Regions from separate parts of the Homo sapiens genome. Here region 2 is linked to region 1. The links come from fine-mapping of genetic effects on gene expression. A gene starts in region 1. The other region holds a variant in brackets. All regions are shown on one strand. Distances are from middle to middle. Region 1 holds the start of MAPK8IP2 (mitogen-activated protein kinase 8 interacting protein 2). Region 2 holds the start of LOC124905149 (a long non-coding RNA gene).

Region 1 (14,947 bases):
AGGGCTGGGCACGGGCAGCCCTCAGGGTCTGTGGGGACTCAGGGGGCGGTTGGACTCTCAGGGTTTGTGGGGGCGGTTGGGGGACTCGGGGACGGTCAGACTCTCACCAGCTGTTGCGGGGATGGCAGCCGCAGAAGGAGATGTTCTTCATCTGGAAGAAATGGCTGCAGCGCTGGAACTAGAGCAGAGGTGGGCAGAAGTCCCTGTGTCAAAGGAGGCCTGGCGCCACCCCTGCCTCCCACCTACTGGACACCCCTGCCAGCCTGGCCCCGTCGGACTCCGTGGCCTAACCCTATCCCCCAGTCCCCGGTCCCCAGTCCCCCACACTCCCACCTCGGGCCCTCCTCCGCTCAGACTCAGCTTGACCCCCCGAAGAGAGATCTCGAGGTCACAGGAGGCAGGAGGGCGCAGGTGGACGGTCAGTTTCCGGGCAGTGGCAATCTACAGAAGAAGTTGGGGGAGAAGAGGGTCTTGAGGAGCCCACAAGGGCCTTTCTTTCCCCTTGGTGGGACTACGCCTCTGCTCCTTTTAGCTTATGTTTGAGGACACACATGCTGAGGACCCTGAGATGCAATTCTGGAAGACATAAGGGGTGTGGCCTTGGCCACTCCTCAGGCTCAGGAGGAGCAATCGCCTCTCTGCAGTCAGCTTGCTTCATCTTCCTTCTGCTCCTCCAGGCAGGCTGCTGCGCTTGGCTCAGGAGCCAGGAACAGAGACCTCACCCGCCCTGGGCTGCTCTGCCCTGCTCCCTACTGCCCCCCAGCCTCAGCCTCAGTACTGGTGCCTGGGCAGGTGCTCACTAAACGTCCACTGAGTGAGTGGATGAGTAGAGGGCTCCCAGGGAAGGGGCTGTGAGGGCTGGTCTTGATTCCAGATGGGAAGAGGAAGGGCTGATGGCAGTCGGGGCCACCTGGAAGATCTGTGGCCCAGAGACCCAGAGGTGATGAGGGACAGCTGCTGTGCTCTGCCCTAGACTCACCTGCTCAGGCCTCTGAACCAGGGCCTGGGGTACCCACCCCGAGCTCCCCCTGCAGCATCCCCCAGACCCTCCCTGGAGGAAATCAGACCTCAGACCTTGGAGCCTCAAGCCCTGTGCCAGCCTGCAGTGCTGGTGTGGCCGCCAAGCGGACCCTCAGCCTGCACTTGCCCGGCCTCCACACTGACCTTCTGCATGGCTGCACACAGGATGCCGTTGCCCTGGTGGCAGGGCACCTCCACGGAGCCCAGGAACTGCACGTCAAAGCGCTCCACCCAGCAGGGGCTCCGCTTACTCCCTGGGGAGCGGGGCACAGAGGGCCCAGGTCAGGCAGGGGCACAGGGGAGGATCTGGGGTGAAAAGCCTCCCCTCGGGGTTGGGACCTCACCCAGCAGGTCCTTGGCAGGGCCGGGCACCGCATGGGCGTAGAAGGCAGGAAACACACCGCGCTCCCCCGTGCGCATGTTGAAGCCACGGAACCAGAAGTCGTCCTCCTCGGCCTCCACCAACACAGGGTCATCCACATCCAGCTCCAGCTCGTCTGGATGCCGCGGGATGAACCTGCCGTTGGGGGAGAGGTCACTGGGGAGGGGGGCGGGATTGACGGTCGTGTCCACTGGCGTTCCGTGATGGCAGGGACTGAGGCTGGGGCCACCGCCAGCAAGGAGGGAGGCCGTACCTGAACACAGCCCGGTGAGTCTGCTCTCGCTCCTCGCCGTTGACCAGACAGGAGAAAAGGCCAAAGGACTCGGTGCCTGGGAGACCCGGCAGGACAGAGGCGGGGGAGACAGGGAGACAGAGTCAGAGTAGTGCTTAGAGGCCTGGCCTTGGGCAGAGGCCAAGTCCCCTCCACAGTCCGGTGTAGGTGTCCTACGAGCGGGAAGGAGCTGAGGCAGAGCAGGCCACCTCATGCCATGTCCTGGGTGGGAGAGGGCACCCAGCCCTGACCACAGCCAGACCCTCAGGTGGCCCTGGGCACTGTGGGGGACCCTGGGACTGGGGCCAGGGAGTCTGCACCTTCCTCTGGGCCACCCCCCTTTTCCCCACCTCTCACTCACTGGAGGACCGAGATGTGCTGTTGACGAAGACATTGAGGAACTTCTTGGAGAAAGTGAGGTCAGGGCTGTCCGGCGAGGTGTCCCCCGAGACCTGACCGCCGCCTAGCAGCGCCGCGCCCGCCTCCTCCTCGCTGGCCTCCCCGCCGCTGTCCTCTTCGCTGTCGTGGCCCAGCCCAGCACAGCGCCGCAGGCTCACCAGCTCCAGCTGCGTGTGCTCATCCACCACCAGCGTGTACTTGACCGCGTCGTACACCAGCGACGCGTCCCGCGGCGCCGAGGGGCCCGTGCCCCTGCCCCCGGGGGACCCCGCACTGTCCTCGGCATCCTCCTCTTCCTCGTCGTCCTCTTCGTCCTCCTCCTCGGAGCAGGCGGCGGAGCAGGCTCGTCCCGGGCGGGCGGCGCGGCCGGGCGCGGCCCACAGCGGCGTGATGGTGTCACGCGTGGGGTTGCTGAGGAATAGGCAGGGCCCGGGCTGCGCGGGGCCGGGTCGAGGCGCGGCGGGCGCGGGCGGCGGCGGCGCGCACAGCGTCTCCATGTCCACCAGCTCCACGCCGCCGGGCCCCGCGGCCGCCTCGGGGTCCTGGGAGTCCTGGGCGGCCCCGCCGGCCGGCGACACGGGCTCCCCGGGCGGGCGCGGCGCAGGAGACAGGCACTGGCCGGGGCAGCGGATGGGCGAGGAGCCCTCGGAGATCATGCGGCTCACCAGGTTGCTGAGCAGCCAGGGCGAGTCCGCGTCCTCGCTGAGGTCCGGCTCCGACTCCGACCCCGACTCGTACTCGCTGTTGGTGTCGTCGGGGCCCACGGGCAGGAAGGCGGGGCGGCGCGGGGGTTCGCGCGGGGGCTCCGGCTCCGAGGCGGGCGACGAGGCCTCCTCGATGGAGTTGGTGAGGTGCGAGGAGCGGCCGCTGCTGCTGCTTCCGCCATCGCTGCTCAGCTCCAGCTCCGTCTCCGAGATGGACGAGATCATGCGCCCCAGGCGCGCGCCGCCCGCGTCCTCCGAGTCGGAGCCGGGCGAGGACAGCTCCTGGCTGCTGCGACGTCCCCCGCGGCCGCCGCTCGAGCGGCTTCTCAGGTCAGCCTCGATGCCGGGATCTGAGGAGGGCGAAGTCCCCCCTGGCGCAGGGGGTTCCGCAGGCCGGTTCCCTTCGCAGTCGCAACCCGGGCGCACTGGCGACTGCGCCCCGCCGGGCCCGGTGTCCGTGGCAGGGAGGGGGCCCGGGAGCTCTGCTGGGCAGGGAGGTGGGGTCACCCTCTCTGCACCACCCAGGCCTCTTCCAGCAGCCAGTCCATCCTCCCTGCCCTCCTCCCCCGCTTCCCCGCGCCCCGCGGGCCCACCACCCCTCACCTCTGAGGGCCTCCGGGGCGGGTGAGCATAGCGCTGTCTCCTGCCAGGAGGCCGGACGCACCAGGTCAAAGCCTCCGTTGTTGTTTAGGGAGTCCTGGGGTGGAGATACATGACGGCGGTCCTGAGGAGGGCCAGCTCCCAGGGGGTGAGCAGGGCTGGCTGCAGCCCAGGTGCTATGAACCCAGGCTCAGCTCCAGGGAGCTGTGGGTCCGGGCACTCACCTGGGCCCCCAGTGTGGTCAGACGGAGGGTGGTGGGCCGGTGCTTGTGGGGCTCCTCCACGGAAGGGGAGGGGATAAGGGGCCCGGGGGCAGGTGCCTCTGAGCCAGGGTCTCCTCCCTCCTGGCCTTCCCCATCTCCCTCCTCCTCCTCCTCCTCCTCTTCCTCGTCCTCATCGTCCTCCTCTTCATTGTCATCGATCATCTCAAACTCCTGGAAGTCATCCTGGAAGGAGCAGATGGGGTGCGGCTGCTCCGAGCGCCCCAGGGAGAGGCTGTCCTGCAGGACGGAGGGAGATAGCAGGGCTGGGCCAGAGGGCAGCAGTAGCCCAGGGGCCCAGGTGCTAGGAGAAGGGAAATCGGGGAGCATCAGTCAAAGGAGAGCCCCTTCCAGCTCACTCTGCCCCTCTGTCTACAGGGCGATGTTTTCAAAATCTGCCTAACACACATTGGGATCACTCCAGTTCTTGGGAAGGGCCTAAACTCTACAGCTGAATGACAGGGATTCTCAGAGCAGCCCCAGCCCCACTTTCAGACTCATCTAACTGCAGAACCCCATCACATTTGACACCAGCACTGTGTTCCCTTCGCAGCGTTTTAACACAACTTACAGTTACTGGACATGGTTTTTGGTCTGTTGCAAGCCCCACCAGGGCAGGGTCATGTCCATGTTATGCACTGTTGCACCCGCCCCCAAGAACAAGACCTGGGGCTCAGCGGATGTTCAGTAAACATCAAACAGATGCAGAAATGGAGAGACAGCCTCTGCACTCTGAGGATTCACCAACTTTGCGCCAACCCCAGGGCCATTGGCACAGTTATTCCCCATGCTGGCACTTCCTCTCCTCCATTCCCTCCTACCTACCCCATCTGCCTGGCTCTGCTAACCTCAGGGCATGGTTGACATTTCCTCTGGAAATTCTCCCTGATTCCTTCAGTGTGGATTGGGTTCCCTTCCCCCTCGTGGAACTTATGTCCCTGTTGGAATGCAGCCCTTGACACGTGGGCAGCCATTGTCCCTTACAAGTCTTTCTCCCCTACTAAGTTGCAGCTCCAGAGAGCAGCTGTCCTGTTCCACTCCCAGCACCCAGAAGCCCCCAGTACTTGCCACATGGCAGTTGCTCAGAAATGTTCTTCAATAAATGAAAGCAGAAATGTGGAGAGACAGGGAGGAGGAGAAGCAAGAGATGGACGAGAAAAGATTTCAGCAGGGGGAGACATGAAACAGACAGATGGGAGCTGCAGACGAGGGCACAGGGCTGCAGAGGGGACAAGGTTGTGATGGCAGCTGCCAGGGATTAGATCTTTCTGGGAGTGATCTGAGGACAGAGGGCACCCAAAGCAAAGGAGCACCTCCCTGCCCCGGGCTGGCCACCGATGGGGTCGGGGAGAATGCTGGGGAAGGCCCTGCGTGGAGGCCTGCAATGTGTTGGAATAAGAGAGAGTTGATACCAAGGAAACCTCAAGGGTTAAGTGGGGAGGAGCCATCAGAGGAGTCCCCGGTTCAAGGCTGAGCTCACACCCACCCTAAAACCCCAAGTGAACGCTAAGAAGAACCTAATGAGGCCCTCCCTTGAGCTGGATCTGTGTCCCCAACTCTTCTCCCACCTTCTCACAGTGGTCTGAGTCGTAGCTGAGGCCCAGGCCACAGTCATCAGTGATCTCAGACAGATCTTCGTCGTCAAATTCTTCCAGGCTTATGTCCTGGGGAGGCCTGGAAAGGAGACCAGGGTCAGAGAGCCACCAACCCTGGACTCCCTGCCTGGCAACTGGCCCTGAGGAGGGGCAGAGGGAGGCGTCAGCTCCTACACCCAGTGGTTTCCACAGCCCCCAGCTCTCGGAACACATCCTGCCATCATCTTGACCCCCAAGCTCTGCTCGCCTGTGGATCCCCTCCCCCATCTGAGCCAGGCCTGCCCGGAGGAGCCAACCCTGCCCCCACCCCTCCCACCCCGCCTCCCTGGAGAGCCAGCAGCCTCTCCTCCCTCCACTCGCAGCTCCAGGCCCCTGGGGTCAGGGTCTTGCAGAGCAGGGGAGGGGGAGCTGCAACGCGGCAGCGGCAGATGGGGAGGGGTCGCTCCTGCTCTGGGAAGAGAGTCTGGCCTGTTTGTCTCCCCCTCTCCGGCGGAGTGAGGCCTAAACCCAGAGGCCCAGCGTCCTCCCAACCCCAGTCCCTTCCCGCAGGGCTCCGGGCTTGATTTCCACTCTCTCCCGGCCGGGCCCTATCGGCCAGGTCTGGCGTCCACTGAAAGAGGCCAAGGCCACCGGGACACGCCGCGCCGGGAGGGTGTGCCCGCATCCCGCCCGCATCCTCCCCCGCAGAGGGTCGGCCCAGGGCCTCCACCCTTGACAGGTCAGCCGTCCAGGCCGGGCGCGGCTCAGAATCCCGGCGGGGCCCGGGGGTCACTGAGGCTGGGGACGCGCGGTGAAGATGGAGGGAGTGGGAGCGGGGTGGGGGTGGGGCGCCCGAGCCGAGGCTCAGGGACCGCAGGGGGCCGGGGCCGGGTCCGCGCCGGCGGCGGGGCTGGGGCGGCGGGGACGGGGGTCCGGGCCGGGTCGGGGTCGGGGGGGTGCGCAGGGAGCGGAGGGTCCGCCCGGCCCGGGCGCCGAGGGGGGTACCTGCAGCCCGGCGGCGACAGCGAGTGGAAGGTGGAGAGAGAAAACATCTCCGCGCGATCCGCCATCTTCTCCGGGAGAGGCCCGCGACTGCGGCGGGGGGTGCGGGAGCCTCGCCGCGCCCCGCGCCGGCGCTCGGCCCGCCCCGCTCACCTCGTGACACGCCCTGCGGCGTCCGCCCCGCGCACCTCGCCCGGACTCCGCGGCGGCGCGGGGAGGGCGGCGGGGGAGGCGGGGGAGGGACGCGGCCGGGGACGCTGGTTGGAGGAGAGGCGGCGGCTTCACTGCCGGGCGCTGGTTGGGGAAGGGCCGGGCGTGCGATGAGGATTTTTCCCGGGGAGGGGCGGGAGGGAAGGGGCGGGCGGGTGGGCGTCGGGCCCCGCCCTGGAGGACCCGCGCGGGGCGGGAGGCCGAGGAGGCAGCGCCGGGGTCCGCGGGCCTCGGGTTCGCCGTGGGCTGTTTCCTCTGGGCGAGAGGCCGGGGCGGCCCCGGGAGCTGCGCCGCCGCGCCCAGGATCCCCCCAGGAACCCTAACCCGGGTGCGGCCCGGAGCGGGGTGGCGGGCGAGGCGGGAGGCGCGGGAGGAGCTGTCCGCCGTCGGGTGCTGATCGGAGCTGTCCCCACGGGGTGCTGACCGGGGCTGCACGGGGACGTCTGCACGAGGGTCGCCGAGCAGGGCTGGATTCAGAATCGAGCACAAGGTACTCAGAGGATGCTGGCTGGGGCTAAAAGTGGACTTTGAGCACTCAGTAGAGACTGCACAGCCGGACGGACGTACCGACGGGCACTGGGAGAAGTTAGCACCCACGGAGGCGACATGCGTCCCACTGGAAACACTTTTTCTTGGGCACCGTGTTGCTGGGCCCTGTGTAGGGAACTGACCCGCTCTGGCTTGGGATGGAGCCCTGTGGGGAGGGCCATGGTTGAAGCTGAGCTCGAGACGGTGGCTGTGGGAGGAGGCGGGAGATCAGGGTTGAGGGCGCAGAACTAGGGAGAGACTGCAGGACACTTTTTTTCTTTCTAAAATAGAGACCGGTGGCTGGGCGCGGTGGCTCACGCCTGCAATCCCACCACTTTGAGAGGCCAAGGCGGGTGGATCACGACGTCAAGAGATCGAGACCAGAGACCATCCTGGCCAACATGGTGAAACCCCGTCTTTACTAAAAATACAAAAAAATTAGCCGGGCGTGGTGGCGGGCGCCTGTAGTCCCGGCGACTTGGGAGGCTGAGCCAGGAGAATCATTTGAACCCGGGAAGCGGAGGTTGCAGTGAGACGAGATTGCGCCACTGCACTCCAGCCTGGCAAGAGCAAGACTCCGTCTCAAAAAAAAAAAAAGAGAGAGAGAGAGACCGGCTCTCTCTGTATTGCCCAGGTTGGTCTCAAACTCCTGGGCTCAGCTATCCTCTGGCCTCAGCCTCCCAAAGTGCTGGGATTACAGGTGTGAACCACAGCACCTGGCTAAATATTGGCTAAAGAAGGAGGCTGGCATTTCAACAAAAGCGCAATCCCTTTTCCCCCTTGATGAAAGTTATGTGCCCTAAGATTTCTTTATGTCTTAGTTCTGCGGAAAATTCTTTTTTTTTTTTTTTTTTTTTTTTTTTTTTTTTTTTTTGAGACAGAACTTGCTCTGTTGCCCAGGCTGGAGTGTAGTGGCACGATCTCAGCTCACTGTAACCTCCACCTCCCGGGTTCAACCGATTCTCGTGCCTCAGCCTCCCGAGTAGCTGGGATTACAGGCAATCACCACCATGTCCGGCTAATTTTTGTGTTTTTAGTAGAGATGGGTTTTTGCCATGTTGGCCAGGCTGGTCCCAAACTCCTGACCTCAGGTGATCTGCCCTCCTTGGCCTCCCAAAGTGCTGGGATTACAGGCGTGAGCCACCGCCCCTGGCCTGGAAAATTATTCCTTAGGAAAGGACAAGGCACTTGAGTGACAAACACCAGAAACGACATGGCAGAAGGAGCTCATGCAAGTCGGGAAGGGGGGTATCACCATTCCAGCTCAGAGAGAGGCCTGTGGCCAGGGCCTGATTGAACCTGCACTCTTTGGTGTCCCATCACAATTTATATTTTATGCCAATTACAGTATTTTTCTAAGAATGGCATTTACTTGGCTGGGCACAGTGACTTACACCTGTAATCCCAGTACTTTGGGAGGCCAAGGTGGGTGCGTCACTTGAGCTCAAGAGTTTGAAACCAGCCTGGAAACATGTCTCTACCAAAAATAAAAAAAATTGGCCGAGCCCAGGAGGCAAAGGTTGCAGTGAGCTGAGATCACACCACTGCATCCAACCTGGGGGGCAGAGTGAGATCCCATCTCAAAAAAAAAAAAAAAGCCATTTACTAGTTTATGCTTGCCTTCTTGACTTGGGTTGGCTGGAGAGAAGAGAGGCTGTCATCTCTCTGTGAAGCCCTAGGCTCCAAGCATGGTGCCTGGCAAACAGTAGGTGCTTAGCAGACATGTGAATGAATGAATGAGAGAGCTTATGGTCTCTAACCCAGTCTGGGGCATCAGGTCTTTGCCATAACAGTCTTTTCCCTTTTAGAAGCACTAAGAACATTCCCCATTTCTGAGGGAGTCTGGGCCTATTAACCACTCCCTGCCTTTCCCAAAAAATCCAGATCCCTTCCCAGATTTCACAGAGAGTTTGACCTCAACTTTCCAGATTGGCTTTTGATCCTGAGTCTTTTCACCAAACTGGTTCATCTGGACATCCACATAAATGACCCATCCAATACCCTGGTCAGTCAGTTCCTTGATTTCTGATCTGTCAACAGTCTTTAATACTCAAGTGTAGTGACCTCTCCCACAAAGTGCCTCCAGGATCTACCTTCATCTGGAATTGCAGCAAGCTTAAAATCTTTTTTTTTTTTTTTTTTTTTGAGACAGGGTCTCACTCTGTCACCCAGGCTGGAGTGCAGTGGTGTGTCCCTAGCTCACTGTAGCCTCAAACTCCTGGGCTCAAGGAATCCCCCTGCCTCAGCCTTCTGAGTAGCTAGGACCACAGGTGCACACTACCATACCTGGCATTTTGTTTGTTTTTGTAAAAACAGGGTCTCACTATGTTACCCAGGTTGGTCTTAAACTCCTGGGCCCAAGCCCAGGTGATGGCCTCCCAGAGTGCTGAGATGACAGGCATGAGCCACAGCATCCAATCTGAAGTCTTATAGTCTCAAATTTCATCTTAGATCCTAATCCCCAAAACCTTCCTCAAGCCTCTCCCCTTCCTTCCCTCCCTCTTAAAAGATGGTCACTCCCAGGTCCCATGAGCGTAAAGACCATGAGATGGGGGATACCGCCCGCAATTTTATCTGTGGACCTCCCATCTTGCCCCCAGAGCACAGATGGAAGATCGTCGGCCTTAAAGTCTGAAATACGGGAGCCACTCTTCATTTTGCACCAACTTGTTGAACGTGGGCAAATTACTCAGTTCCTCGAGATCTTGGTTTCTTCCTCTGAGCAATGGTGCTGCGAGGACCACATGTCGTGGTGTAAGCCCCAGACACAGGCCCTGTTGTTTGTTGGTGATCATTTAAGGCTCACCTTTCCCCTGCTCCTCACACCGGGGACATGTCCTCCCAGTCCCCCAGGGCTGCTCTGTGCAGCTCAGGGATACATTAGTGAAAAGGCAGCAACTCTTTCCTGAGGGGGTTTATGCTCCTTACATCATGCACATTTTATCAAATTTGCACCTTCCTTGTGTGCTCCTCAGAGCATCATTGTATGGATGAACAAATGGGGGTCCACAGGGAGCTGAACATCCCTCCTTGAAGTTCCTCCTCCAGCCTCTGGGCCACAGGCACTGGGTTTTCCTTCCTGACCACCACCCGTTGTCAGCGTCCTTCCAGACTCCTTCTCCTTCAATGACAAATCAAGATGTTGTGACGCGACCATTTTAACGCTTTCTTCCCTCTATGGTGCACGAATGGCATAGACATTACAAAGCACAAAATTGATTGGACTTAGAAGGGAGAGTTGGAATCGCAACAGCTTCCACAGTCCTGACCACAGCAATTCTAAAAAGTCAGAGAACATTTTCTGACAACTTTCTGAGAGATTAGAAAACAAATGCAAACTATCAGTATTTATTGTACTCATATTTCACAGAAATCACAAACACAAAATAAATATGCCAATGGTTAAAACTGCAAACAGACACATTTAATAAAGATGAAAATTAAGAGTTCTACCTTCACCATGGTGAAGTCCTAACGCCACCATTTCCCGAATCTTCATTTTTATGCAGCCAGGTCTCTGATCACTACCTCCTACTTTTCTTGGTCTCTTGCTGCATTACTACAATACCCACTTTTTTTTTTTTTTGAGACAGGGTCTTGCTCTGTCACCCAGGCAGGAATGTAGTGGTGCAATCTCAGCTCACTGTAACCTCTGCCTCCTAGGTTCAAGCAATTCTCCCACTTCATTCCTCAGAGTAGTTGGACTATAGATGTGTGCCACCACACCTGGCTAATGTTTTTATTTTTTGTAGAGACAGGGTTTCATCATGTTGCTCAGCCTGGTCTCAAACTCCTGAGCTCAAGCAATCCACTCACCTCAGCCTCCCAAAGTGCTGGGATTACAGGCGTGAGCCACTGTGTCAAGCCTTTTTTTTTTTTTTTAACTCCATAAGAAATGTGCTTCAATTACTATTACTGTGTAACAAATTATCCTCAAATTTAGTGGATTAAAACAATTAAGTTGTTATTTACAATTGTTTGTTTTGAGGGTGGAAATTCAGGAAGGACTCCAATGGGAAGTTCTTGCCTGGGTCTCTTTTGAGGTTTGGTTGCAGTTGGAGGTAAGCCTGGCTCGAGGTCTGAGATGGTTCATTCAGAAGGTTGGCAGTGGATGCTGAGTGTGAGCTGGGGGCTCTGCTGCGGCTGTCACCAGCATATCCACTGGGCTCTCCTGCATCGTGGTCTCAGGGTAGTTTCTTTTCTTTTCTTTTTTTTTTTGGAGACAAGAGTCTCGCTCTGTCACCCAGGTTGGAGTGCAGTGGTGTGATCTTGGCTCACTGCAACCTCCACCTCCTGGGTTCAAGTGATTCTCCTACCTCAGCCTCCCGAGTAGCTGGGATTATAGGTGCCTGCCAGCACGCCCAGCTCATTTTTTTTTTGTATTTTTAGTAGAGGCGGGTCTTCGCCATGTTGGCCAGGCTGGTCTGGAACTCCTGACCTCAGGTGATCCGCCCACCTCGGCCTCCCAAAATGCTAGGACTACAGGCGTGAGCCACCGCACCCAGCCAAGGGTAGAGTTTCTACATGATGGCTGGTTCCCATCAGAGTAAGGATCCTTGGAGGGCATGCCCTTTTCTGGTCTAACCTTGTAAGTCCTACAGCATCACTGCTGCTGTGACTATTGGCCAAAGCAGTTGCAAGCCTACCCAGCTTCAAGAGGGGGGTCACAGACCCTACCCCTCCATGGGAAGAGTGTCAAAGAACTTAGGAGCTGTGTCATAAAACCACTGCAAATCTGCAGTCCATGTGTCATGAAACCACCACAAACCTCCAGTCCATGTGTCATAAAACCACTGCAAATCTCCAGTCCACGTGTCATGAAACCACCACAAACCTCCAGTCCACTGAACCTCGCTCTTTCCTCAATGTCCACTCAAGTTTCTTACCTGACATTAACCCTCTCAATCGTCAACTTGTCCTTCTCTTCTGGATCATTTCCATCAGCAAACAAGCATAACCTATGTTAAAGAAAATGGTAATTCTCACCTGATGGTACAGGACATCCAAAATCATGGCATTTACAACATTGTTATGCCTTAATGAAAGTGACAGTAGGCCGGGCACGGTGGCTCACCCCTGTAATCCCAGCACTTTGGGAGGCCGAGGCAGGCGGATCACAAGGTCAGGAGATCAAGCACAATGGCTAACACGGTGAAACCCCATCTCTACTAAAAATACAAAAAATTAGCCAGGCGTGGCGGCAGGCGCCTGTAGTCCCAGCTACTCGGGAGGCTGAGGCAGGAGAATGGCATGAATCTGGGAGGCGGAGCTTGCAGTGAGCCGAGATCACGCCACTGCACTCCAGCCTGGGCGACAGAGCAAGACTCTGTCTCAAAAAAAAAAAAAAATCCTTCTGGTTTAAGAAAGAAATCTCACACATAATTATACCTTTCAGAAAACAGATTTCTATCAGTGCAGAAGATGATTATAACATGCATCAGTTGAAGTTTTTAAATAGATTGCTACTATCAGGAATTTTTTTTTTTTTTTTGAGACACGATTTTGCTCTGTCGTCCAGGCTGGAGTGCAGTGGTGCAATCATAGTTCACTGCAACAACCACCTCCCAGGCTTAAGCCATTCTCCCTGCTTCAGCCTTCCAAGTAGCTGGGACTACAGGTGTGTACCACCACACCCAACTCATTTTTGTATTTTAGTAGAGATGGGGTCTCACCATGTTGGCCAGGCTGGTCTCGAACTCCTGAACTCAAGTGATCCGCCTGCCTCGGCCTCCCAGAGTGCTGAGATTACAAGCATGAGCCACCACGCCTTGCCAGGAAATTTTTTAAATCTCTGAAATCTGAATGTCTCACTAGACTCCTTCATAGAACGTACATGCCCAAAGACACTTTTATAATAACTGAAAAAACAACAGGATTATACACTTTCATGAAAGTCTTTGCACTGCAGCAGAGTCATAGCCCCAAGGAGGACAGCACTGCAGCCTCGACAAATCTCTCTCTGACATACAAATTTTGGAGAGTTTTCCATTTACTGCGATGAGCACAAAGGGAACAGGCCCAGCAAAGCATGCCAGGAGCTATCAAGCTGCAGAATGTCTGGTGAGCGCTTCCCAGATTTCCCCAGTTCCTCCCAAAGATGCACTAAAGTTGGTGATGACAGGGCTCTGCCTGACAGGGAGACTCCCTGATAGGTTGCTGGAGACCCTGAACAGAGATTTACCAAGCCTTTTTTGGCGGGGGGACGGAGTCTCGCTCTGTTGCCCAGACCGGAGTGCAGTGGCGCGATCTCGGCTCACTGCAAGCTCCGCCTCCCGGGTTCACACCATTCTCCTGCCTCGTCCTTCCAAGTAGCTGGGACTACAGGCGCCCGCCACCGCGCCTGGCTAATTTTTTGTATTTTTTAGTAGAGATGGGGTTTCACCGTGTTAGCCAGGATGGTCTCGATCTCCTGACCTTGTGATCCGCCCACCTCGGCCTCCCAAAGTGCTGGGATTACAGGAGTGAGCCACCGCGCCCGGCCGGCTATCAGGCCTCTTACACCCACAAACTTGTCATCTTGGAACTCCCAGCATAATTACCTAATTTGATTAACAAAAACTGTCTTTTTTTTTTTTTTTTTTTTTTTTGAGATAGGGTCTCACTCTGTCACCCAGGCTGAAGTGCAGGGATGTGATCTTGGCTCACTGCAACCTCCGCCTCCTAAGCTCAAGCAAACCTCTCACCTCAGTCTCCCAAGTAGCTAGGACTACAGGCACCCGCCACCATGCCTGGCTAATTTTTGGTTTTTTTTTTTTTTTTTTTTTTTTTTGTAGAGACAAGGTTTCACCATGTTTTCCAGGCTGGTCTCCAACTCCTGGGCTCAAGTGATCCACCCGCTTCGGCCTCCCAATGTGCTGGGATTACAGGCGTGAGCCACCATGTGCAGCCTCAAAAGCTGTCTTCATCCTCTGGATCTAATAGCTAAGTTCTAAGTACAATCTTGCTACACGGGCCGCAGGATAAGAGACCGGGCAGCTGGCAGGATGGCACTTCTTCCCTCCCCTGCCTCACTTTCTCACCCACCCACCTTATTTCCTGCAGCTTCAAACAAACTCCTTGCATGTGAATCCTCGTTTTAGCTACTTCTTCTGAAGGAATCCAATCTAAGGCATCCTGCTAATTGTGACACTCACACTTAAATTATCAAATCGTAAAGTTAATCAATAGTTTTACCCTTTTCCTGAACAATACAAGGACCCGAGAAGTATTTAACTCTGTTTACTCCAGTCCCAACTTAAATTTTATTATTATGCATTTTAATATTCTTTATTTTTCCTTTTTTTTTTTTCTGGTTTTTTAGACAGAGTCTCACTGTCACGCAGGCTGGAGTGCAGTGGCATGATCTTGGCTCACTGCAGCCTCGACCTCCCGGGCTCAAGCAATCCTCCTGCCTCAGCCTCCCAAAGCACTGGGATTATAGGTGTGAGCCACTGTGCCTGGCTATTATTTTTCTTTTCAAGACCCATAGGAATTGTTATTGTTGCTTTAAGCCATTGATGTTTACTAGATTTACCCAAATGTTACCTCTTTCTATATCCTTCATTCCTTCTTCCTTGTCAGATCACCCTGTGATACCAATTCCTTACACCTTTTAAATGTTTCTTTAATGAGAATCTTCCGTAGTAAACTCAGTTTGTCCGAAAATGTCTTCATTTTGTCCTGGTTCCTGAAAGATATTTTTACAGGATACAGAATTCTGGGTCATTAGTTTCCATTATCACCTCGAAGGTCTCGTCCATTGTCCTCCTCTGGCTTTCCTTGTCGCTAGAAAACATCATCTCTCAGTCACTCCCTTGAAGGTCATTTTCCATGCATCTCCAGCTGCATTTAGGACGCTTTTGTCTTTGGTGTTCTGAAGTTTCAATGTGGTCTATCTAGGTGTGGGTTTATTTTGTATTTTTTTCTGCATGAGGTTCTCAATTATATAAATTTATATGAATTTCTCAATTATGTGACTTTCATTAGTTTAGAAATTTCATAGCCATTATCTCTTCAAA
Region 2 (14,947 bases), 38 kb before region 1:
TGCCTGGGCACAGGAGTGGGAGAGAGAGCTTGGGGACCAGGCTGCCCTCCTGAGAGAATGCCACAGTGGTGGGCATGAAGGAGTCCAGGGAGCAGGATTCCAGGTTGGGGAAACAGCAAGCTCAGTGGCCGGAGGCTGGAGGATGCCTGCAGCCAGCCTGGGCAGACAGCTTGAGGGCACTATATCAGAGACAAAAGTGACTCAATGACCCTTGTTAAAGCACAGTCAGGCACACTTCATTCAGGACCATCACCAGAGGTATAGAGACCACTGGAAGGGGAATTGGCAGCGGGGGAGAAAGACTGGACTCAAACCCAAATACAGCCTGGGTAACTGGGAGTTTATAGCCAAGGAGCAGGGTGGGGGCAGGAGATGTTAATGTACTAAGGGAAAGCATCAGGTGTGAAGAGGATTCTTGCTGAGGACAGGCCAGAGTGACCAACATCACCTGCCAGGTGGTGGAGGGTGAGGAACCTGACCAGATATGATTGCAACCGCCTTTGCAAAACTGCGACTGAAGCAGTGAAGGAGATCTAACATCTAACATCTAACCAGCTCCATCCTGCTTCTAGCCTTTAAGCCATGCTTGTTCCTCCATGGGCGCAGGTTGAACTAACTTTGGGAGGAGCTTGGTTTATAGTTGACAGTTTAAAACAAAGATGAACAGCCCTTTCCCCAAACAAACCTCTTTCTTCCCTGCGGACTAGTCTGCCTTTATAGGACTAACAAATTAGCCACAAGATTACAAATTATGGTTTAGGAGTCATGCTGCTGGAGGCTGCAAGATTCTGATCTTCCCTAAACTGCTCCTAAGTAAGAACAGTGCAGATTCTGATCCTCCCTAAACTGCTCCTAAGTAAGATCAGTGCAGATTCTGATCCTCCCTAAACTGCTCCTAAGTAAGATCAGTGCACATTCTGATCCTCCCTAAACTGCTCCTAAGTAAGATCAGTGCAGATTCTGATCCTCCCTAAACTGCTCCTAAGTAAGATCAGCGCAGATTCTGATCCTCCCTAAACTGCTCCTAAGTAAGATCAGCGCAGATTCTGATCCTCCCTAAACTGCTCCTAAGTAAGAACAGCGCAGATTCTGATCCTCCCTAAACTGCTCCTAAGTAAGAACAGCGCAGATTCTGACCCTCCCTAAACTGCTCCTAAGATCAGTGCAGATTCTGACCCTCCCTACACTGCTCCTAAGATCAGTGCAGATTCTGACCCTCCCTAAACTGCTCCTAAGATCAGTGCAGATTCTGACCCTCCCTAAACTGCTCCTAAGATCAGTGCAGATTCTGATCCTCCCTACACTGCTCCTAAGATCAGTGCAGATTCTGATCCTCCCTAAACTGCTCCTAAGTAAGATCAGTGCAGATTCTGACCCTCCCTACACTGCTCCTAAGATCAGTGCAGATTCTGATCCTCCCTAAACTGCTCCTAAGATCAGTGCAGATTCTGACCCTCCCTAAACTGCTCCTAAGATCAGCGCTTGAGGTATTTGCAGACCCTGCGCTTGATGCATCAGTTGGCACCACCCAGATCCATAAACTGGCTCATCTGATCCTGTGGCCTCAACCCAGCAGCTGACTCGGCACAAGAGGACAGCTTCGGCTCCCCATGATTTTGTCTCCAACCCAACCAATCAGCATTCTCAACTCACTGGCCTTCCCCCACTCACCAAATTACCCTCAAAAACTCTGCTCCCCGAATGCTCGGGGAGACTGATTTGAGTAATAATAAAACTCTGGTCTCCCATACAGCCGGCTCTGCGTGAATTACTCTTTCTCTATTGCAATTCCCCTGTCTTGATAAATCGGCTCTGTGCAGGCAGCGGGCAAAGTGAACTCACTGGGTGGTTACATAAAGGGTGATCAGGTCCTTACTAAAACTGGATTTTACAAGGAAGTGCACAGATGGGCTCCGGAGAAGGTTCAGGAGCTGCCGTCTGCCCAAGCAGAGAAGCTTTCATTGCCACACAGCAGCTACCTCACACCTGCCACGGTTCTTGTGGGCAGTGGATTCCGTCCTCATCTGCTCAAGACTGTGCCCCCAAGCCGGGCGCAGTGGCTCACGCCTGTAATCCCAGCACTTTGGGAGGCCGAGGTGGGCGGATCACAAGGTCAGGAGATTGAGACCACCCCGGCTAACACGGTGAAACCCCATCTCTACTAAAAAAATATTAAAAAATTAGCGAGGCGTGGTAGCGGGCTCCCGTAGTCCCAGCTACTCAGGAGGCTGAGGCAGGAGAATGGCGTGAACCCGGGAGGCGGAGCTTGCATTGAGCCGAGATCACGCCACTGCACTCCAGCCAGCCTGGACGACGCAGCGAGACTCCGTCTCAAAAAAAAAAAAAAAAAGGGCTGCCCCTCTTTCTGGGAACCTCCTGCCTTCCTCTCCCTGCCAGTGGGTTCCACAAGAACCTCCCAGTCAGTACCTGCCACCCCCTTGGCCAGGTCATGTATCTGCCCAGCTGGGACCAGCAGAGCCCTTTCAGAGTTGGGACCAACCAGAGGGCCTCAAGGTGGTTGATGGGACAAGGATGGAGCAGGCCCACAGGGGTGGGGAAGATGAAGGCCACCAGGGGGCCTAAGGTGGATCCCCATGTCAGCAGGTCTCATGAACTGCTGCAGAATCCCTCCACTCAGGCCACGTGTTCCCGCTGAAGCAGCTCAACTCCCCACCCTCCCCATGCAGAGGCTTCTTCCATCCCTTGTCCAAGGTGCAAAAAGACAAGACCCATGCCCCTCATTTCAAGGCCCTCTCCTGACTGTGGGTGTTAGTCCCAAATTAGCAATGCCCCAGGCGTCCAGAGCCACTTCCCGAACCCCAGCAGGCTGCCTCCAATTGGGGCTCTGTCAATGCAGAAAAAGAACTCACATCTCCAAAAGGCAGGATGGCCTGCAGAGCTTGGCTTTGAACAAACATAGCTGGCAGCACACACATCCCCTCCTCCAGGCCGGGAGGTCAGGGCTGGGCCGAGGCAGCTGTCACGTGGGCAACCCCTGAGCGGCCTCCAGAGCCCAGGGGGAAGGGGCCACCATTTGCGTAACACTACAACCCTAAGCAGGCTCTTCTCGGGAAGAAGGGGCCGGTCCTGGGGTAGTTCCCAGCTTCCAGTTGAAAGAGAATAAAGTGCCTTTGATTGTCTCCTTTTAAACTCCAATTCACAGCGCCAACCAGCTGCGATAGCTCCAATTACAGGTTCAAAGATTTCTGGGCCACCGAGCAGCTTTCTGTTCTGGCTCCAGATGGAAGCACCAGCAGCGCACCCCTGCCCCCAGCCCCGCCACACACAGGCACAGACACCACACTGGAATGTAACATCAAGGGGCTCGCTGGCAGAGACTGGCACCTCCTGCTCTCCACAAGGTCAGCAGCAGCCTCAAGCCCAGCCCCTTCCCACCCCATCTCTGGGAGTCCCTTCAAACTTTGCTCCCACATGGCCTCTATCTTGGAGCTTTCATGTTTCCTCAGGAAAATGCCAGCTCCCCACACACAGCTGGGCTTCAGTGGAAGTCGAGTCCTGAACCCTCACCCTGGTCCCCAGAGGCTCTTCCAGAGCCCTGTCCACCTTCCCACTGGCTGCAGGGTCAGTGACCAGGGAAAGCGCTTCCCATCAGGAGACCAGGTCCTGCTCCTCCCCGAGGGGCAACCTGAGCTTGTGGAGAAACGCAAGGTCAAGGAGCTGCCCTGGGGAGCCACCCTAGGAGGGGCCACCCTGAGGGAGCTGTCCTGGGGACACCTGCAGTGGAAACTGTTCAGGGCAGGGGCTATGGAGAGGGATACCCTGGCAGGGCCCAATTACTACAGCAACCTTGGGGCCCTCAGCCACACAGAATAAAATCCTCACCGAAGCCCCCTCTGGGGCTCTCTCTTACACTGATGAGAAAAAGAAGTAGCTCAGAGCAGAGTCGGAACTAGGCGGGGTGTACGGCCAAGAGGGATGAGTGTGGGGCCTCAGTAATCCCACACTTCTGCAAAAATGGCTGGGGACAATTGTTTCAGGACGCTTTGTTCCAGACCAGCTGCCTCACCATTATCTTCATGTTCTTGGAATTTGTGACACAACGAACAATGTAGGCCGGGTATGATGGCTCACACCGGTAAATCCCAGCTACTCAGGAGGCTGAGGCACAGGAAATCACTTGAGCCCGGGAGGCGGAGGGCACAGTGAGCACTCCAGGCTGGGCAACACAGCGAGACTCTGTCTCAAAAAGAAAGAACAATGTATAGCCAATGTTATCTGTTTTTGTTTTTTCTGTTTTGTTTTTGAGACGGAGTCTCACTCTGGCACCCAGGCTGGAGTGCAATGGCGCAATCTCGGCTCACTGCAACCTCCACTTCCCAGGTTCAAGCAATTCTCCTGCCTCAACCTCCCAAGTAGCTGAGATTACAGGTACACGCCACCACACCTGGCTAATTTTTGTATTTTTAGTAGAGACAGGGTTTCGCCATGTTGGCCCAGCTGGTCTCGAACTCCTGACCTCAAGTGATCCACCCGCCTTGGCCTCCCAAAGTGCTGGGATTACAAGCGTGAGCCACCGCGCCCAGCCACCTCTTTTCCTTCGAAAAACTACTGTAACTGTTGCCAATCAGAGTGTATATTCAGGGCAAATAGAATCTCTGCTCCCAGGTTGCAATCCTCAAGCTTGGCCCAAATAAACCCTCCGCTCATGTTAATGTTGCTTCAGCTTCTTTCTTTTAGGTCAACGTTCAGTACGCGTCTGTCATTTCCATTTGACTGTTAAACAAACTGGAGACTATAGAGGCCAAGGGAAAACTTGCCCTCTGCCCTCAGGAGATTCACGGAAAATCAACTGACAAAGTAAGAGAAAAGGCATACAGATTTATTCATGCACACAGGGAGAACCAGAGTGATGACCCCAACCTCCCAATGGGGTTCGGAAGCTTATATACCATCTTGAGGTTACAGAAAGAACATGGGCTCAAAGTATGGCCACAGTTTATGGTGGAAAATCAGGTGACCAGTGGCAAGACCGGTTACAGGAGGGAGAGCAGAGGAGGCCTGGCTAGCAAAGGTGGCCTTGTTCTACAGATGAAACCTCACAGGTAGCAGCCCTGAGAGAGAACAGATGGTGAATGTTCCCTTCAGGCCTTTAAAGGCGTCAGACTGTTACTCTTCCCAGATCAGGCAAGGAGGGCCTCAGAGGAGGCCTGGCCGCATCAGTGTAGATTCTCTCCACAGATGCAAATCTCCCCCACAAAAGACAGCTTTTCAGCTATTCTTCTATTTCCAGTCCTTCTGAGTAACTGTCTTGAACCGTGTCAAGGAAATATTTTTGTTGTTGTTGTTTGTTTGTTTTGAGGCAGAGTCTCACTCCGTCACCCAGGCTGGAGTGCAGTGGTGCAATCTCAGCTCACTGCAACCTCCACCTACTGGGTTCAAGTGATTCTCCTGCTTCAGCCTCCCTGGGATTACAGGCATGCACCACCATGCCTGGCTAATTTTTGTATTTTTAGTAGAGACGGGGTCTCGCCATGTTGGCCAGCCTGGTCTCAAACTCCTGACCTCAGGTGATCTGCCCACCTCGGCCTCACGAAGTGCTGGGATTACAGGCGTGAGTCACCATGCCCAGCCATGGAAATACATTTTGGGGCGAAATATTTTGGTTTCCTTCAGTCCCCACTTTGAGACTTTCAGAAAGTTGCCCATATAAAAAGAAAGTTGATAGCTTTGAAGAGATTTGAGTTAGAGGTTGTTAGATAAGAGACAGGCAGAGGCGGGCAAAAAGAAATTGGGATAAGCAGAAAAAGACAAATTTAAATGTCATCCTGGCAGGGCACAGTGGCTCATGGCTGTAAATCTCAGCACTTTGGGAAGCTGAGGCAGGAGGAGCACTTGAGCCCAGGTGTTCAGACCAGCCCGGGCATCACAGGGAGACTCTATTGCTACAAAAAATAAAAAATTAGCCAGGCATGGTAGTTTGTGTCTGTGGTCCCAGCTACCTGGGAGGCTGATGCAGCAGGATGACCTGAGCCTGGGAAGTCAAGTCTGCAGAGAGCTGTGATCACACCACTTTGTGGGTGAGTGAGTGAGACCCTGTCTCTGAAAAATAGATATGTATCATGCCATATTTTCTTGAATCCGTCTCTTAGTCCTGAGACTAGATCAGCTCAGTTAAACAGCTGTATCCTATTCCAAGAAGTGGCATTGCAGATGGGCTGGGACCTCGTATATAATTCACACAAACAGATCTTTAACAAGATACAATTCTATGGAAACAGAAGAAAAAAAACGGTGAATGTCTGGTGTCATCCATAGACTAGCTTTTCTAGCTCTCCTCAATCTGAGGCATCTGGAGCATCTTCAGATTGCAATGGCAATTTGACAGATTTTTCTGGATTGTAGTTCTAATTGGGTGTTCAAGTGAACTTTCTGAATAGTCCATATATCAACAGGCACAAAGGCTATTTATACATAAGTCGCTGTGATGATTTCTCCTGAAGATTATAAGTAATTTAGCTTCAGTTGCAGGGCTTCAAGAAAAGCCATTTTAATTTCCAGTGATTTTAAATCAGAAAAATGGGAGAAAAACTGGAAAGCATTAGTTTAGAGACTTGGAGCTAGGAAAGAATGCAGGATTCAGTTCAAACTATAGGCAAATGATAACAACTCAAAAACAAGTCAGTCCGGACTCTCGTAACAGGTGTCAACAGTCAGTCCGGACTCTAATAACAGGTGTCAACAGTCAGTCCGGACTCTAATAACAGGTGTCAACAGTCAGTCCGGACTCTAATAACAGGTGTCAACAGTCAGTCCGGACTCTCCTCACGGCAGGTGTCAACAGTCAGTCCGGACTCTAATGACAGGTGTCAACAGTCAGTCCGGACTCTTGTGACAGGTGTCAACAGTCAGTCCGGACTCTCGTGACAGGTGTCAACAGTCAGTCCGGACTCTAATAACAGGTGTCAACAGTCAGTCTGGACTCTAATAACAGGTATACTATAGTTTTCTTCTAAAACATATTTTTTCTCTCTCCAGTCTCCCTTTTCCACAAAAGACAAATCAGAGTAAGAACAACTGATTTACAAAATAAGTTTTAGTCTTATTATAATTGGCCTGATTATTTGCATAAAGTACAGTAATAATAGTGACTGGCCATTCAACCTCTTTTAAAGTTGGCTTTGCCAGAACTTTTTCATAAGGAATCTCAGATTAGACTTTTAAAAGCATCTTGAGGCCGGGCATGGTGGCTCACGCCTGTAATCCCAGCACTTTGGGAGGCCGAGGCGGGCGGATCGTGGGCTCAGGAGATCAAGACTATCCTGGCTAACACAGTGAAACCCCATCTCTACTAAAAATACAAAGAAAATCAGCCACGTGTGGTGGCGGGCGCCTGTAGTACCAGCTACTCAGGAGGCTAAGGCAGGAGAATGGCATGAACCCGGGAGACGGAGCTTGCAGTGAGCCAAGACCGCGCCACTACACTCCAGCCTGGGCGACAGAGCGAGATCGGTCTCAAAAAAAAAAAACCAAAAACCAAAAAAAAAAAAAAAAAAAAAAAGTACTTGTCTGGGTACTTTACATGAGTTTCCTTGAGGAAGAAGCAAGTCTTGAACTGTAGCTAATTATAAGCTGCTTTTTAAAAAGAATCAAAGTAAAACAGTAATTGACTGTGGATGACAGATGACTTAGACTAATGATGGTTACAGATGCAATTCACAAGGAGATTTGTTTTTTTGTGTGACATACAACAATTTAACATAATAATTATAATTTTGAGCCAGGCGTGGTGGCTCATACCTGTAATCCCTGCACTTTGGGAGACCAAGGCAGGAGGGCTGCTTGAGCTCAGGAGTTCGAGATGAGCCTGGGTGGCACAGCAAGATCCTGTCTCCAAAATAATAAATAAATAAATAAAGACAGCATGAGGCAAACTCTCTACTCCTCCTTTTTTTTTGTGAGACAGAGTCTCACTCTTGTTGCCCAGGCTGGAGTGCAGTGGCACAATCTCAGCTCACTGCAACCTCCGCCTCCCGGGTTCAAGCGATTCTCCTGCCTCGGCCTCCTGAGTAGCTGGGACTACAGGCAGGCGCCACCACGCCTGGCTAATTTTTGTATTTTTAGTAGAGATGGGGTTTCACCATCTTGGCCAGGCTAGTCTCAAACGCCTGACCTCAGGTGATCCACCCACCTCGGCCTCCCAAAGTGCTGGGATTACAGGTGTGAACCACCGTACCGGGCCTACTCCTCCTTTTCTTGTAGTTTACTCAAAAGGTAAACAAAAATCTTTTACTGTCTCTTATTAATACTACATGAAAATCTTACTCAAAAATGAAAACTAAATTCTACCTTTACATTAGCATATTATTAATACTAAAGCTAATTTTAATAAAAACTTAAAAACAGATCCATTCAATCTCAATCAGCTTTGACCACATAAGATTTCCATAAACCTTTAATAACCTCTTAAAATTTGTTCCATTCTTTGTTTCTCAAACTTTCTATATATATTCAGTTTTATCTATCATTTTTTTATTCCTTTAATTTAAAACAACCTTTAAAAACATCAAAACTAGACAAAATTACTTTTCCTTTAACAAAAACCTCATTCTCATGCCTTCTTTATAACCTTCCTTACCAAAAACACATCCTACTTTCTTATAAACTTTGCATACAGAAGTGTTTCTCTTATATCTAGTAGTTTTAAATACATATATTAATTACAATGTTAACTCTTAGGAAGCCTAATTTTCAGTGAAAAACATGGGAAGTAAGCAATTTTAATTGTTATTAAAGATGCAAAGCCCAGGACAAAGGACAGAGCTTTAAAGACTGATATGGTTTGGCTGTGTCCCCACCCAAATCTCATCTTGAACTGTAGTTCCCAAAATCCACAGGTGTTGTGGGAGGGACCCAGTGGGAGGTGATTAGATGAAGGGGGCGGTTCCCCCACGCTGTTTTTGTGCTAGTGAGTTCTCACGAGGTCTCATGGTTTCATGAGGTGCTTCCCCACTCTTCGCTCTGCACACCTCCTTCCTGACCTCATGTGAAGAACGTGTTTGCTTCCTCTTCCGCCATGATTGTAAGTTTCCTGAGGCTTCCCAGCCACGCTGAACTGTGAGTCAATTAAACCTCTTTCCTTTACAAATCACCCAGTCTCAGGTATGTCTTTATTAGCAGTGTGAGAATGGGCTACTACAAAGACAATGCCTGGAGGACTCAACCCCTCCCAGCATGACCGGGGGGCACAGCTGGGCCAGGGAGGACAATGCTCGGGCACTGCAGACACACAGCATGACCGGGGGGCACAGCTGGGCAAGAGAGGACAATGCTCGGGCACTGCAGACACACAGCATGGCTGGGGCGCACAGCTGGGCTAGGGAGGACGGGGCTCAGGCACTGCAGACACACAGTATGGCCGGGGGGCACAGCTGGGCTAGGGAGGACGGGGCTCGGGCACTGCAGACAAACAGCATGACCGGGGGGTACAGCTGGGCCAGGGAGGATGGGGCTTAGGTACTGCGGACACACAGATGTCTCCAGGCCACATCATGTCCACTTGTCTTGACCCCAGAATGTAGAGGCTCAAAGCCAAAGACCTAAGTTCACAGACAAATTAAGCAAGTATCAGAAATATGACAGAAGCAAATTTTATGACCTTAAAGCATCTAACAGAGACTGTCTGAACCTGTCCGACCAATGGGCCCAAGCAAAGATGTCTCAATTATATTTAAGACTGACGACTTTGAAGATATTCTAATTTTAGCATCATTTTTTTTTTTGAGATGGAGTCTCACTCTGTCACCCAGGCTAGAGTGCAGTAGTGCAGTCTCGGCTCACTGCAACCTCTACCTCCCAGGTTCAAGTGATTCTCCTGCCTCAGCCTCCTGAGTAGCTAGGACTACAGGCGCATGCCACCACGCCTGGCTAATTTTTGTATTTTTAGTAGAGACGGGGTTTCACCATGTTGGCCAGGATGGTCTCGATCTCTTGAC[C/A]TCGTGATTTGCCCGCCTCAGCCTCCCAAAGTGCTGGGATTACAGGTGTGAGCCACTGCACCCAGCAGCAACAATTTTAAAACTAAGTTTATTTGCCAAAGATTACTAGTCACATGAACTAGAAAAGCATCTGGGTTTAGTTACATCATTCATGAGCACTTATTTATTTATACGTCAATTTGCTACTATGTACATAATATACAAACAGGCATGTACACATAAAAATACAGACACAAATCAAGATTTTATAGCTTTAGTTTTAAGATTTTAGCCACGAATCGGGTAAAAATCACTAGTTTAAAAGGATACTTAAAATTGTGCCTCTGTAAATGGAACAAGGTAAAATTTATCTGTCTCACACGGCCAAAGCCCTTACCAAGTTTTAGAGAAAACAAGGCAACAAATTTACATCTTGAAGCACAGAGAAAAAAAAATTATTTTTATTTACTGAATTTTTTCAAGACGGAGTCTTGCTCTGTCGCCCAGGTTGGAGTGCAACGGCACGATCTTGACTCACTGCAACCTCTGCCTCCTTGGTTCAAGCAATTCCACAGGGAGAAAGTTTAAGCTTTGATTTAGTATGTTAAAGGAAGATTTTAAATGGATGCTGAGGTAACAAAAAGTCATAGAAATTCACCACAGGATTTTATAAGGACAACAATGTTATTTAAATATGTGGCTATTAATTTATTCTCCATTTTTGAACTAGACCACTGGGCTCAGGACAGAGCTCATTAATGAACATGGCCAAAAAAGCATTTGCAGTTTGGAGGACCTAATATTTAAATATGTGAAAAACAGGTGCAGCTGGAAGGCAGAGCATCTAGATCTTTTAAAATCAAGGATCCCACATTTACACTGAATGCTGAGTTCCCTCTAAAAAGAGATATATATGAGACAAAGCCATACAGTGTTTCCACAGTGTACCTCACTATGAAGACATTCCCCTGAGGCTGGTGGGAGACCCACAGCAATCAGCCCACGGAGTCTCAGCCTTTGACGCCAAGTGCTTCCATAGTCTCCAAGTGTTCAGATTGTGCCTTTCTCATCTAAACATGCAGAGAAACAAGCAGCCACTGCAGGAACAACCATTCACTACAACTGCTTTCAGCCACCTCCAAAACTGTGAGGCAGCCCTCGCCAGTGACCTGCCGGCCATCACACACACTCAGGTCATGCACTGTCTCACAGTGCAACGTAATCCCTGGTACCCCCAAAGCCAAAGAGATCCAGTGACACAGTGCCAAAGACAGCCAAGCTTTAGACCCGAGAGGAAGCTACCCACGACTCCTCAGGCCCCATAAGGAAGACAAAAGCGGGGCGCGTGGCACCTTTCTTTGCGTTCCCCAAGGGGTCTCTAAGTCATCAGAAGTCCCTTGTAGATCCCTTCATTAGGTACCAAAGATGGCAAAGGGGATGGAGGAGCACGGAGGGGTAGAAGTAAATGGGACTGCAATCCTTAGAGGAGCCAATTTGGAAAAATGTTAAGGTTCTAAAAGGCCAATACAATTTTACATTTTTCTCATCAAAATTATACCAACAAAGGAACCAAACAGAAGGACCAAACACACAATTTAAAGGGGTTTCAGTCACCTGAAAAAAAAATTCCCAGAAACAGGGTCCAAAAGCAGAAAAGGCTGTAGATACATGGCTTGAAGATCAGCTCACCTGTTTTTAATTAAGCCAACTTCTGACCACAGAGCTCTTTTTTAAAATCCTTTCAAATATCTTATTATCAGATTTTAGCTGAGACCAACAGCTGATAGCCATGGCTTTGAGACCTTTTTTTTTAAAACCAAAGGTACCTCCCAAGTGACTCACCAAAACCAATAAGCCTTAACTAAAGCTATGGACTTAACCAAGGACACATAAGCCATCTCCAAAGAGGCGCAAAGCAGTCCTGATGACATCCAGAGCCACCCCAAAGAGCTCAAAGAAAGGAAATCAAAAGCTGCCAGTGGAGGGGGAAAGGGTCAACAACAAATGAGTTCCGCACAAAGTCAAAAGTTGGCTGGGTGCGTGGCTCACGCTGGTAATCCCAGCACTTTGGGAGGCCGAGGCAGCCGGATCACAAGGTCAGGAGTTCGAGACCAGCCTGGCCAACACGGTGAAACCCCATGTCTACTAAAAATACAAAAAAAAAAAAGAAAAAAAAAGAAAATTAGCTGGGCGTGGTGGCTCACACCTGTAATCCCAGCACTCTGGGAGGCCAAGGCGGGAGGATCACGAGGTCAGGAGTTCGAGACCAGCCTGGCCAACATGGTGAAACCCCATCTCTACTAAAAATACACACACACAAAAAAATCAGCCGGGCGTGGTGGCTCACACCTGTAATCCCAGCTACTCCAGAGGCTGAGGCAGGAGAATTGCTTAAACCCAGGAGGCAGAGGGTGCAGTGAGCCAAGATCATGCCACTGCACTCCAGCCTGGGCGACAGAGCAAGACTCCGTCTCCAAAAAAAAAACAAAAGAAAGAATTCAAAAGTCACACAAATATCAAACCAAAAGGGACTGGTTCCTCTATTGGGAATTGAACCCAGGCCATGGTAGTGAAAGTACAGAATTTTAAGTAGTTTCCAAGATGCAGCAGTCTTCATTGTGAATCCTGCAGGGATCCAAAGCAATGGTTTGCGCGCACAAAGGATTTTAACTTGTTACAGGTCAGATTTTTGCTCTTTAATTTTGTGAAGAGGATTTCTAAGGCTAGCCACAACATTATTATGTGTCTTTCCTTTAATCTCCCCACAAATACAAATAAGGCAATTGTTTAGAATGAGAGACCTCTAAAATCTTTTTTTTTTTTTAATTTAGGGATCTTTCTAATGTAAAGGATTCATCTTTTGGCTATTGACAATCAGAATTTCCAATGATGTATTTATTCCAATAGCAACTCAATCCAAGAAGCCCCTTCATGGAAAGCCCAAAAGATTATTTTCCAGGTTTAGAGAGGGCATAGAAGAGGAGGTTCCAATGATGCCCCCAAAATTCACTCCCAGGAATAGGCAAAGACAGCAAAAGACTCTTGTTCCCAGAGACAGTTAAGGAACGTGTTTGTACATACAGTGCCTCCAGTAACACACAATCTGTCAGGGGCTGCCAGTCACAGACCCATTAACCTGTAACACAGGGTAGGCCTGTTGGGATTGGGCTTTCTGAGGACTGACCAGGCAACAAACATTGGGATGACAAAAGCCCCTTATGGATGGGCCTGAGGAGAGCAAAAACCACCTGGCGACCATCAAACATCAAACAGGCCCTCCGAGGCAAAACTCCTTATCTGGGGAAAATCAAAAGTAACTAAACCTCCCTATTATCTAAAGCAGGCATCTGGTTCCAGATTTCTTCCCCCAAAAAACGTGTAAGTAACTATAATTTCTATGTGTCTCCAGAATACCATGACGAAACTCACTGTACAACCGTCGCTGACATTAAGGCACCAAAATTACTATAAATGTAATCATTTATCATGACTTACGTGGCTAATATGGTCCAAATTACTGTTAAGCCTCCACTTTAAGGCCTATAAATGCCCTTAAGGAGAAATCCACCCGGCGTACTCAGTCCTCTTGCTGAGGCACCTCATTGCACTCTTCTGCAGCATTCTAATAAACTTTCTTTCTTTTCTTTTTTTTTCTTTTTTTTTTTTTTGAGATGGAGTTTCACTCTTGTTGCCCAGGCTGGAGTGCAATGGTATGATCTCAGCTCACCACAACCTCCATCTCCCAGGTTCAAGCGATTCTCCTGCCTCAGCCTCCCAAGTAGCTGGGAATACAGGCTCCCGACACCATGCCCAGCTAATTTTTTGTATTTTTAGTAGAGATGGGGTTTCATCATGTTGGCCAGGCTGGTCTTGAACTCCTGCCCTCAGGTGATCCACCTGCCTCAGCATCCCAAAGTGCTGGGATTACAGGCGTGAGCCACCGTGCCCGGCAAACTTTCTTTTTTCTTTTTTTTTTTGAGACAGTCTTGCTCTGTCTCAGCTCACTGCAACCTCCGCCTCCCAGGTTCAAGCAATTCTCCTGCCTCAGCCTTCCAAGTAGCTGGGATTACAGCCACGCACCACCACACCTGGCTAAGTTTTATACTTTCAGTAGAGACAGGGTTTCTCCATGTTGGCCAGGCTGGTCTCAAACTCCTGACCTCAGGTGATCCACCCACCTTGGACTTCCAAAGTGCTGAGAGTACAAGCATGAGCCACTATGCCCGGCCAAACTTTCCTTTTTCAAACCTATTGTCGGTAAACTCTTTTTACCAACCCGCAAGTTGACCACCACTCCCAGTGCCGGGGCTCTGACAGCTCGCCTGGCAGGGACTTCTTAAGACAAACTAAAAGCTTGACACATTCAGAACAAAAACGGTGCTGCTTAAAATATTAAATGTCTTGGGTTCCCAACCATTTTCAGACTGACCACAAAATGTGACCTGCGAGTCACTACCTCGGATTGGCAGAGGCCAAGAGAGTGCTCCTGAGGTAGGAGGTGGGACTTAGTTGACCCAGTTGAGGATTGGCTAAAACAGGGTTGGGGCAATAGCAGCTTTCAGTCAGATATGCCCGCCACTGTGCCATGTCAGTTTACCATTGCCATGGCAACACCCAGGAGTTGCCACCCCTTTCCATGGCAATGACCCAATGATGACTACTCCTTCCCTAGAAACTTCTGCATAAACCATCCTTTAATCTACATGCAATCAAAAGTGCGTATAAATGTGACTGCAAAACTGCCCTGAGCTGCTACTCTCAGCCTACGGGGTGGCCCTGCTCTGCAGGAGCAGTCACAGAGCTCTAACGCCACCTGTTCAATAAAGCTGTTTTCTTCTACCTCTGGCTTGTCTTTGAATTCTTTCCTGGGCAAAGCCAAAACCCTCACTGGCTAAGCTCCACTCTGGGGTCTGCCTGGCCTGCATCATTCCCACTCGCTCACAACTCAAGCTTTCAAGGACATCAAAAGAGAGGAGAATCTCATCCAGTTTTCAGTTCAGGGACCCACAGCAAAG

What was found. PIP is the estimated chance that this variant, and not a neighbour inherited with it, causes the effect. A credible set is the group of variants that fine-mapping cannot tell apart.
Region 2: its variant is the best candidate, but not a certain one, in a credible set for the expression of MAPK8IP2 in subcutaneous fat (GTEx, PIP 0.71).

The regions. Positions count from the first base shown.
Region 1 is chr22:50,592,152-50,607,098 of GRCh38, reverse strand. MAPK8IP2 (mitogen-activated protein kinase 8 interacting protein 2) reads right to left here and starts at 6,306. Exons shown (of 12, transcript NM_012324.6): 1 at 6,216-6,306; 2 at 5,205-5,310; 3 at 3,601-3,876; 4 at 3,380-3,473; 5 at 2,035-3,258; 6 at 1,656-1,731; 7 at 1,365-1,537; 8 at 1,165-1,274; 9 at 334-441; 10 at 108-178. The coding sequence starts at 6,280. CHKB-DT (CHKB divergent transcript) reads right to left here. Exons shown (of 4, transcript NR_110536.1): 4 at 11,818-11,908. RefSeq lists an enhancer at 5,427-5,927 and a silencer at 6,717-6,896.
Region 2 is chr22:50,630,153-50,645,099 of GRCh38, reverse strand. It overlaps LOC124905149 (a long non-coding RNA gene), which reads right to left and starts at 13,606. Exons shown (of 2, transcript XR_007068161.1): 1 at 10,402-13,606; 2 at 9,094-9,557. RefSeq lists enhancers at 746-1,245, 1,246-1,747, 2,469-3,033, 8,807-9,321, 9,322-9,838 and 1 more. The variant C/A (reference allele first, on the strand shown) is at 9,954.